Homo sapiens: one gene and its partners. The protein of the gene in region 1 purifies or fractionates together with the protein of each later gene. This does not show direct contact. Each region holds a gene or a part of one and is shown in the gene's direction. Other genes may lie near its edges.

Region 1 (3,651 bases):
ACCTCCTGGGTTCAAGTGATTCTCCTGCCTCAGCCTCCCAAGCAGCTGGGATTACAGGCATGCGCCATCACGCCCGGCTAATTTTGTTTTTTTAGTAGAGACGGGGTTTCACCATGTTGGTCAGGCTGGTCTCGAACTCCCGACCTCAGGTGATCCACCCACCTCAGCCTCCCACAGTGCTGGGATTACAGGCGTGAGCCATCACACCCGACCCACTCTTATTCCTTCTAAGCCTTGATAAAATCTCAGTTTAGTGGGACAAAGTGGCTCACGCCTGTAATCCCAGCACTTTGGGAGGCTGAGGAGGATGAATTGCTTGAGTCTAGGAGTTCAAGTCCAGCCTGGGCAACATAGCAAGTCCTCGTCTCTAAGAGAGAAAAAATAAAATTCTCATTAATATAGTGTTTAGTTTAAAAAAATAAAATAGACAAAGCCTTAGCTGGTATTAACTTGCTCTAACGGCTTCCAGACACTTGCGCATCTCCCGTGTTCCCAAATCGATGGCCGACGCAGGGCCCCACATCAGCTGGGCTTCGGCGTGAGGTCTTGCTCTTATGGAAAAAAAATCTTTCTTTTTCTTTTTAGATGGAGTCTCACTCTGTCGCTGGGCTGGAGTGCAGTGGCGCAATCTCTGCTCACTGAAACCTCTGTCTCCCGGGTTCAAGCGATTCTCATGCCTCAGCCTCCCGAGTAGCTGGGATTACAGGCACGTGCCAGCATGCCCGGTTATTTTTTGTATTTTTTAGTAGAGACAGGGTTTCACCACATTAGCCAGGCTGGTCTCGAACTCCTGACCTCAGGCAGTCCGCCCGCCTTGGCCTCCCAAAGTTCTGGGATTACAGGCATGAGCCATGGTGCCCGGCCTATGGAAAATTTTAAAGTCATTTTCTGTTGGTGATGTGTGCGCCAGCTTTCCTTTACTTGATGAGACTGAGTGTCCCTTCCTGCAGATCACATGAGGCAGAGCAAAAACAAAAACAAACAAAAAAAGAAGTAGAGACTGAGTGTCTTTGGAAATCAATGTAAGTTTCTTTAAAAACGATATAAAGACAGTAATGGCTGGGTATGTTGGCTCACACCTGTAATCCCAGAACTTTGGGAGGCTGAGGCGGGCAGATCATGAGGTTAAGAGTTCAAGACCAGCATGGCCAACATGGTGATACCCTGTCTCTACTAAAAATACAAAAAATTAACTGGACATGGTGGAGTGTGCCTGTAATCCCAGCTACTCGGGAGGCTAAGGCAGGAGAATTGCTTGAACCAGGACCTGGGAGGTGGAGGTTGCAGTGAGCTGAGATTGCACCACTGCACTCCAGCCTGGGCTACAGAGCGAGACACTGTCTCAAAAAAAAAAAAAAAAATTAACCAGGCATGATGGCATGCACCTGTAGTCCCAGCTACTTGGGAGGCTGAGGCAGGAGGACTGCTTGAGCCGAGGAGTTCAAGGCTGCAGTGAGCTATGATCACGCCACTGCACTCCAACCTGGGTGACAGAGGAAGACCCTGCCTCTAAAACGTTTTTTAAATGGCAAATATTAAGTAAATCTTGGTCCAGGAGCTATGTGGCTGAATATGGCAAAAATTGCAATGGGAAGAGCTTTTTTTAAAAAAGATTTTATTATTTATTTTATTATTATTATTATTATTATTATTATTATTATTATTTTGAGATGGAGTCTCACTCTGCCACCCACGCTGGAGTACACTGGTGTGATCTCAGCTCACTGCAACCTCCACCTCCCAGGTTCAAGCAATTCTCCTGCCTCAGCCTCCCGAGTAGCTGGGATTACAGGTGCCCGCCACCAGCCTGGGTGATTTTTTTTGTATTTTTAGTAGAGATGGCGTTTCACCATGTTTACTAGGCTGGTCTTGAACTCCTGATCTCAGGTGATCTGCCCGCCTCAGCCTCCTAAAGTGCGAGGATTACAGGCTGGGCCACCACACCTGGCCAAGATTTTATTTTTATTTTTAATTTTAATTTTTTTTTTTTTTTGAGACGGAGTCTTGCTCTGTCACCCAGGCTGGAGTGCAGTGGCACGATCTCGGCTCACTGCAAGCTCTGCCTCCCGGGTTCACGCCATTCTCCTGCCTCAGCCTCCTGAGTAGCTGGGACTACAGGTGGCCACCACCACGCCCGGTTAATTTTTTGTATTTTTAGTAGAGGCGGGGTTTCACTGTGTTAGCCAGGATGGTCTCGATCTCCTCATCTCGTGATCCGCCTGCCTCGGCCTCCCAAAGTGCTGGGATTACAGGTGTGAGTCACAGCGCCCGGCCCTTTTTTTTTTTTTTTTTTTGAGACAGAGTCTCGCTCTGTTTTCCAGGCTGGAGTGCAATGGTGCCATCTCGGCTCACTGTAACCTCTGCCTCCCAGGTTCAAGTGATTCTCCTACTTCAGCCTCCCGAGTAGCTGGGATTAAAGGCATGCACCACCACACCCGGCTAATTTTTGTATTTTTAGTAGAGACGGCGTTTCGCCATGTTGGCCAGGCTGGTCTTAAACTCCTGACCTCAGGTGATCCGCCCACCTCCGTCTCCCAAAGTGCTAGGATTACAGGTATGAGCCACTGCGCCTGGCATTATTTTCTTAATCTTTTTTATTTTTTGAGAGAGTCTTGCTGTGTTGCCCAGGCTGCAGTGCAGTGGTGTGATCTTGGCTCACTGCAACTCCCACCTCCTGGGTTCAAGCAATTCTCATGCCTCAGCCTCCCAAGTAGCTGGGATTACAGACATGCATCACCAGGCCCGGCTAACTTTTGTATTTATAGTAGAAATGAGTTTTCACCACATTGGCCAGGCTGGTTTTGAACTCCTAGCCTCAAATGATCCCTCCACCTCGGCCTCCCAAAGTGCTGGGATTACAGGCATGAGCCACCGCGCCCGGCCGTATGGGCTTAAGATGGGAGTCCAGCCCTGGCTCTGAGCTGGACACGTGGTTAATGTTGTTCAAGTTCACTGTTAACGCCTCTGATGATTCGTGTGTCCATTCGAGCCGTATTTATTGAGCAGCTGCTGGTAACCGGGCATGGTGCTGGGTGCTGGGAACAAGGCACAGAAACCCGCTGCCCTCATGGGGCTCACAGTCTAGTGGGAGAGATGGATAATAAATTAGATGAACGGGTCACTCAAGGGTCCTTTGGTGATGGGCGAGACAGAGAAAGGGGCAGGAAGCGTAAGAAGGTTGGAACTTTCTACCAGAGACAGGGCAGGCTACACCGAGGAGGTGATATTGAAGCAGAGACCCAGAGGAGGTGAGGGAGGAGCCATGGGGGGATCCCAGGAAGGGTGCACCAGACAGAGGACACAGCCAGGGCAAAGGCCCCAAGGTGGGACCGTGCCTTGTGTGTTTGAGGGAAGAGGCCGGTGTGGCTGGAGTGGAGTGATGGAGGGGAACGGGAGGAGGAGGTGAGGGCAGGGAAGTGATGGGAGCTGATCAAGCCCTGCCTGTGGCTGCTGTGAGGACCTGAGCAGACGGGGGATGTGCATGACCCAGTTCAAGCATCCACAAGTTCCTCTGGTCACTGTTGGGGAACAGACTACGGGACAAAGAGCTGGGGACCAGGACAGAGGGATGTGCATTGACCCAGTTCAAGCAAAGATGGAGCCTTGCAGGCTGGCAGCAGGGACAAGAGCTGGGTAAATGCTGGTTGAGGA
Region 2 (3,746 bases), on another chromosome or scaffold:
AGGGCAGGCAGAGAGGAGGGCAGGGGCAGAAACCACCCCCTAGGTCAAGGCGAGAGGCCTGGATTTGCTTCGTGGAGTGACGGGAAGCCGTTGGAGGGCGTGTCAGGAGGAGAATGACATAGTGTAACTTGAAGGACCTCTCTGAAGGGTGGACCACCAGGAGGCCAGGGTGGAAGCACACAGCAGTCCGCGGGAGGATGTCACAGAGCCGGCAAGGACACAGCTGGCTCCGCAGGAGGGCCAGGAATGGAGATGCACGGATGTGTCCTGGAGTTAGAATGGACAGGACTTCTGGATGGATTGGCTTTGAAGAGTGAGGGGAAGGAGGAAGCAAGGAGAACCCCAGGGTGCTTGGCTTGAGCGGCTGAGGGGACGGTGGTGCCGTTCACTGAGATGGGCAAGACAGAGTGAGAACTGGGTTGGGGGATGAAGTTGGACATTCTTCACAGTCTCGGGTCCAGGCTAGGTAGGGACAGAGCTCCAGTGAGTGCTGGATCAGATCGATCCGCTTTGCTGTTTGAGTCGAGTCTGTGTGTGTTTTCTGAAGTCTGAACGCATGCCATGCTCCACTGTGTCCTTGGTGGTTCCCATCAGACCCTGACAGGGCTCCAGTCCCTCCTTGTTTTTTGTTAGTTTGTTTTTGAGACAGGGTCTCACTTTGTCACCCAGGCTGGAGTGCAGCGGCACGATCTTGGCTCACTGAAACCTCCACCTCCTGGGCTCAAGCAATTTTTTTTTTTTTTAAGATGGAGTCTCACTCTGTCGCCCAGGCTGGAGTGCAGTGGTGCGATCTCAGCTCACTGCAAGCTCCGCCTCCCGGGTTCACGCCATTCTCCTGCCTCAGCCTCCCGAGTAGCTGGGACTACAGGCGCCCGCCACCACGCCCGGCTAATGTTTTGTATTTTTAGTAGAGACGGGGTTTCACCGTGTTAGCCAGGATGGTCTCGATCTCCTGACCTCGTGATCCGCCCGCCTCGGTCTCCCAGCAAAGTGCTGGGATTACAGGCATGAGCCACCGCACCCGGCCTCAAGCAATTGTTTCACTTAGCTGGGACCGCAGGCGTGCACCACCATGCCTGGCTAATTTTTGTATTTTTTGTAGAGACGGGGTTTCCCCATGTTGCCTGGGCTGGACTCTAACTCCTGGCCTGAAGCCATCCGCCTGCCTAGGCCTCCCAAGTACTGGGATTACCAGTATGCACCACCCGCCACCCAGCCTTCTTCTCTTACTAACACCACCTTCCCTGTCTTGGCAGCTGTAAAGGACCTGGCCAGAATGTGGCTGTGACCAGGGCACACCCTGACTCCCAAGGGAGGCGGCGGCGGCCTGAGCGGGGGGCCCGAGGAGGCCAGGTGTTTTACAACAGCGAGTATGGGGAGCTGTCGGAGCCAAGCGAGGAGGACCACTGCTCCCCGTCTGCCCGCGTGACTTTCTTCACAGACAACAGCTACTAAGCAGCATCGGACAAGACCCCCAGCACTTGGGGGTTCAGGCCCGGCAGGGCGGGCAGAGGGCTGGAGGCCCAGGCTGGGAACTCATCTGGTTGAACTCTGGTGGCACAGGAGTGTCCTCTTCCCTCTCTGCAGACTTCCCAGCTAGGAAGAGCAGGACTCCAGGCCCAAGGCTCCCGGAATTCCGTCACCACGACTGGCCAGGGCCACGCTCCAGCTGCCCCGGCCCCTCCCCCTGAGATTCAGATGTCATTTAGTTCAGCATCCGCAGGTGCTGGTCCCGGGGCCAGCACTTCCATGGGAATGTCTCTTTGGCGACCTCCTTTCATCACACTGGGTGGTGGCCTGGTCCCTGTTTTCCCACGAGGAATCTGTGGGTCTGGGAGTCACACAGTGTTGGAGGTTAAGGCATACGAGAGCAGAGGTCTCCCAAACGCCCTTTCCTCCTCAGGCACACAGCTACTCTCCCCACGAGGGCTGGCTGGCCTCACCCACCCCTGCACAGTTGAAGGGAGGGGCTGTGTTTCCATCTCAAAGAAGGCATTTGCAGGGTCCTCTTCTGGGCCTGACCAAACAGCCAACTAGCCCCTGGGGTGGCCACCAGTATGACAGTATTATACGCTGGCAACACAGAGGCAGCCCGCACACCTGCGCCTGGGTGTTGAGAGCCATCCTGCAAGTCTTTTTCAACAGAACTTCACAGACTGTTAGAGCTGCTGAGAAGAATTTGCTTTCCGAATTCAGCCTGGAAGGCGCCCAGGGACAGCTGTACTGAGTCTAGATGACTCTGACCCCCGCCCCAGGTCAAGGCCAGCAGAGCAGTCAGTGCCTCTGGAGAAGGCCCTTGCTCTCCCACCTGGCCCAGACTCCGAGGAGCCTGGGTCTGGAGCTGCCGGTCTGGTTCTTCCCTTTAGAGCCCGGATCTGCCACCTGCGGCCCCTCCCAAGCCGTGAACCAGCTCATGAGAGATGAACACTGTGGGATCCACTCAGGAAGGCTCGGGGCTGGCACAAAGGACCACCCAGCATTGCCCTGTGCCACCCAGCACTCAGTGGACATTCTGGGGACCTGCCTTCAGCCTTTTCCTGCCCTGTGCCTGACATCAGCACCCTGGCTGGTCAGAATGCCGCCCTCCCAGAGGAGCAGCCGAGAGATCCCCTGAAGGCTGGAGGCATTCTGCTCAGGACCCCTATCCCAGCTCACAGTGCCCAACCATCTCACCAGGAGAAAGAGCCACATCCCCACGTTAGGACCACGGAGACTGACCACCACCCTGACCCCCCAAACCCACGCACCAGACGCTTGCAGGACAGGCGCCGCGCAGCGGGCAGGGGCTTGCCCGGCCGACCCTCCCCTCCCCACCTCCCCCACTGCGCGTTACTCCAGGATATGCCGAGTGCACGTATAAGGTCATCTTCGTCGTCCCCGTGGACCTCCCCCTTCCTCTGCACGTCGTCCAACGTGGGACTGGCGTGTCAGGCTTCCCTGGGAGGATCTGGAGGTTGTTCTCTGCAGAGAACCAGCCTGGCTCCTGGCGCGCACCTCTGCTCCCTTCTCCTCACTACCCACCCACGCATGTACCGGGAAAAAAACTACTATGCCCTTCTAGACCATGTTCTGAGAAAAGATCGAAAATATTTAACAAGAGATAATAATAAATCTGATGCCGGTCTTTGTGTGTGTTGCGGACGGGAGTGTTGCTTTTATTGTTTTTGCTTCCGTAATAAATCTAAATGGGAATACAGAACAGCCCCCACATTGGGCTTTTTTTTTTTTTTTTTTTTTTTTTTGAGACAGTTTTGCTCTTTCCCCCAGGCTGGAGTTCAGTGGCGCGATCTCGGCTCACTGGAACCTCCGTCTTCAAGCAATTCTTCTGCCTCAGCCTCCTGAGTAGCTGGGATTACAGGCACCTGCCACCACGCCCAGCTAATTTTTGTATTTTTAGTAGAGACGGGGTTTCACCATGTTGGCCAGGCTGGGCTCGAACTCCCGGCCTCAGCCTCCCAAAAGTGCTGGAATTACAGGTGTGAGCCACCGCGCCCGGCCGCTTTTTTTTTGTTTTGGTTGGTTGGTTGGTTTGTAGAAATGAGGTCTCACTGTATTGCCCAGGCTGGGTTTGGATATTTTAGCTTTCCATTATAATTGACTGAATTTAGTCACTGACCTTGACATATGTGCCAACCCAGGTGTCCACCAACAGGGTGTCCCCCCGTGCCCAGGGCTGAGCGGCTCTCCAAGCCCAAAGTATGCCCCTGTGTGTTGGGAACTGAAACACCTCTGTGCTCCCATCCCGT
Region 3 (3,651 bases), on another chromosome or scaffold:
CAAGTCAAAAGTGTCAAGTTGTTGGGACTGATTGCACAAGAAAGAGACAAAGCCTGTATTTAAGTGTCCAGTATGAAATGGAAATTATTTTTGCTTATTTCATTTAGGTAACTAATCTCCTTTGTATTCGTCAGATAATTTTGATTTAATTTTGCCAGAATTTCTAGGTATTGATTTAGTTTTTAAAATGCTAACTTCAAGTTAGGTAAGTTCTGGAGCACTTCAGAATTGAGAGAGCTCTTCTCACCTGTACAGTCTCTCTTGCTCTTCACATCCACCCCAATAGAGGAGTCTTACTGTTTTCCCTTCCCAACACGTGATTAATTCATTGATTCTCAAAAAGGTTAAGTGACTTACCCAATGTCACCCATTCATGTACTTGGTAAACATTTTCCCTTCCCGACAGATGATTAATTCATTGATTCTCAAAAAGGTTAAGTGACTTACCCAATGTCACCCATTCATGTACTTGGTAAACACTAATGTTATTTTATAATAGTATATATTTAATAATAGTAATCATAATATAGCTAACATTTATTGAGCACTTATTATGTGTAAGGCACTGTTTTAGGCACTTTACATGTATTAGCTCATTTAATCTCCATAACAGCCCTATGATAAAGATGCTATTTAAAGCCTACTCTGATGAATCACTTTGCTAATTTCTAAGGCTGCATAAATGATAATGAAGAGGTAGCTGCCCTTAGGAACTGACAGTTAATATTAAACAGTTAACTAATACAGGGCCATATGTACATCATAGATTTATGTGCACAGTGCTATGAGAACACAGAGGAGGAGGACCTGGCTCTGAAGGGACCAAAAACCATTCTTTTTCATTCTTTTTTTTTTTTTTTTTTTTTTTTTTTTTTTTTTTTTTTTTAGACGGAGTCTCACTCTGTCACCCAGGCTAGAGAACAATGGCGTGAACTCAGCTCACTGCAACCTCCGCCTTCCGGGTTTAAGCAGTTCTCTGCCTCAGCCTGCCAAGTAGCTGGGATTACAGGTACCTGCCACCACACCCGGTTAATTTTTGTGTTTTTAGTGGAGACGGGGTTTCACCATCTTGGCCAGGCTGGTCTTGAACTCCTGACCTTGTGATCCACCCACCTCAGCCTCCCAAAGTGCTGGGATTACAGGTGTGAGCCACTGTGCCCGGCCCAAAAACCATTCTTATGACTTATTGCATTCACGTAATTCATTCATTCATTCATTGAAGGCCTACTGTGGGCCAGGTATTATGCTAGGCCCTTGGAATATGATGAGGACTCCTGGGCCAAGGCTGTTTATTTTTTTATTGTTGTTTGTTTGTTTGTTTGTTTGTGACAGAGCCTGGCTCTGTTGGCCCAGGCTGGAGTGCAATGGCACGATCTCGGCTTATTGCAGCCTCCACCAAGGCTGTTTCTAACATACTACACTGTCTCTCTGAAGGCACAGCCAGACTTTAAGGGAACTCTTGGTTTTAAAATAATCTGGTTTTGTTTATACTTTATTATCGTCTACTAGCCTGGGACCAAATTCTTTGAAAAATTTTCCCCAATGCCTCTAATTTAGAATCATATTAGAAATAAACTAAGATCCTATAATATAAAAGCCTATATATGTGGAATCAGTCATATCTAGGAAAATCAAATAATAGAATAAAGACTGAATACATTCATTATTTTTAAGGCAAGTGAAATATTGAGGTTGACTGAAATGAGTCACTGTTACTTCTCATAAATAGATTAATCGTAAATTTAAAGTTAGTTAAAAATAGTGATAAAAGATTTTAATAGCAAATTATAAGTAAGCACTGATTAAATGGATTATATCAATGTTTTATTAAACCTTGCTCTGAAAATAGTACTTATGACATAAAGTTTGATTAACATACTAGATTCAGATTTGATTATGGATGGGTGTAATCATTGTTACGGAGAGGTACCGTGGTGCAGTAGTTAAGAACAAGGACTTTGGAGTCAGACGGATGACATGGTAATTGTGGTACTTAACCTCTGTTATCCTTGGTATCTTTGTCTATGGAATGGAGTAATAAAAGCTATCTCAGAGAATTATGAATATGATAATCTTAAAGGAACCAAGGTCGCATTATTAAATTTTACTATCATTTAATTTCCAGATGAAAATAATTCTCAGAAACAAAACTTCTATTGAGTCATGGATTGAAGAGAAGGTAAATTTTAATAATTGTTTCTTCAATATTAAAAAAGTATATTAATAAAGGACTGGTAAAGTCCTGAATATTAATAAAGTCTGTTATTAGACCGGATTAACGAAAAGTGCCTAAAAGTGAAAACATGGCTGCCAAATGGCTACCGTAAGTCATTTGCATGCCACATAAAAGGTGAATATAGGAAACATTTTTGTTCATTCTGTAACTCCCACAGAAAGGTGCTTCTCATACACCCTGAGTGGTCGCAGAGGCCTAAGCCACACGTCAAACCATCTGTTTGTTGTCTCTTAGACTAGAGGAGAAAGCAGCCCATTTGGAAAGGAGCTTCCACCCTACCAAACTGCCATCAGGTTTTTCTCAGTGTTTTAGACATTCAATGAAGCTCCTAACATTTTGCTTGTCACAGACCTCACAATGTCCAATACTTCATACTGTCCATTGTGATTCTAGCATGAAACACAAATCTGACTACCCTGCTCTGTGTTTAAAACTTCTCAGAGCCTCACCATTCCTGTGGCAGGGGTTGAAACCCAAATACCTGCAGGGTCTGGGCAGATAACGTCCATGAAGGGGAGCAAGCCTGTATACCAAAGAATTGCCTGGCAGACCAAGCTGATTGTTGCCACAGGGGAATATTCACAATTTCCAAATTACAAAATAGGGAGAAGAATAGCATCGTTTTATATCTTTACAAATCTCTTTAGTATCTTTGACTTAAGAGAAGATGGTTGGATTCTCACTTCTGCATTCAGTCTGTTGAGATATGTTGCTTCGATTGAAGTATGTGAAGATCTAGCCTCACACAGATAAGTAGGTAGAAAAGGATAGAATATTTTAATAGGCCTTTTACATGATAATAGTGGATGTTCTTCCGTATTACATTGAAAACTTGACAAGTGATATTTCTTATCAATAAGATTTTTATACCTTTTTATTTTAAAACTCATCAGTCTATCTTGCTCTTTGAATTAATCTTTTACCAGTATGTGGTTTTATGTAACATCAGGCATCGGTCATTTGGCAAATACTAGTTTACTGTGTTATGTAGATTTTGCAAACGTTAAACACCTTTCATTATACAATATCCCAAAATTGCATTCACGTATATCAATATATCATTTTTATGAGAAAAAATCCTTAAGTATTGGAAAGCTGTCAGGCTCACAGTGGTAGATACAAGGTTTTTTTTTTTGTAATTCTAGTATACATTTGAAAGCCTTAATTTTTTACTATTAACCCATACTGTCAGTCATTTCCCTTGAAGTGACTGCCTGACTGTTCGTTTTTGAGAAAATGTTCACCAAGTCCTGAAGTCTGAATAACCTTAGTTTGCTATATTACTCATTCTTTCAAATAAGAATAGTGTTACATTAAAAAAGCTGGCTCTACAGCTTTTGTTAGCTTACAGCTTAACAACTATTTTCCTTGAGATGATCATTCTACTTGGGCACGCTTTATGTATACTTCTCATT

The links.
Region 2: the proteins of PLVAP (region 1) and FLT4 purify together in Homo sapiens (affinity purification with mass spectrometry, with the first as the bait; one large-scale study listed by BioGRID). This does not show direct contact.
Region 3: the proteins of PLVAP (region 1) and ZDHHC6 purify together in Homo sapiens (affinity purification with mass spectrometry; 3 studies listed by BioGRID and IntAct, with this or other methods). This does not show direct contact.

Annotation. Positions count from the first base shown.
Region 1 is NC_000019.10:17,353,240-17,356,890, reverse strand, and holds part of PLVAP (plasmalemma vesicle-associated protein), read left to right. Parts: intron 1-3,651. UniProt on the Homo sapiens protein: Endothelial cell-specific membrane protein involved in the formation of the diaphragms that bridge endothelial fenestrae. It is also required for the formation of stomata of caveolae and transendothelial channels.
Region 2 is NC_000005.10:180,600,901-180,604,646, reverse strand, and holds the end of FLT4 (vascular endothelial growth factor receptor 3 isoform 1 precursor), read left to right. Parts: intron 1-1,256; coding exon 1,257-1,455; 3' UTR 1,456-3,141; downstream 3,142-3,746. UniProt on the Homo sapiens protein: Tyrosine-protein kinase that acts as a cell-surface receptor for VEGFC and VEGFD, and plays an essential role in adult lymphangiogenesis and in the development of the vascular network and the cardiovascular system during embryonic development.
Region 3 is NC_000010.11:112,436,864-112,440,514, reverse strand, and holds part of ZDHHC6 (palmitoyltransferase ZDHHC6), read left to right. Parts: intron 1-862; exon of another isoform or gene 863-1,009; intron 1,010-2,125; coding exon 2,126-2,179; intron 2,180-3,651. UniProt on the Homo sapiens protein: Endoplasmic reticulum palmitoyl acyltransferase that mediates palmitoylation of proteins such as AMFR, CALX, ITPR1 and TFRC.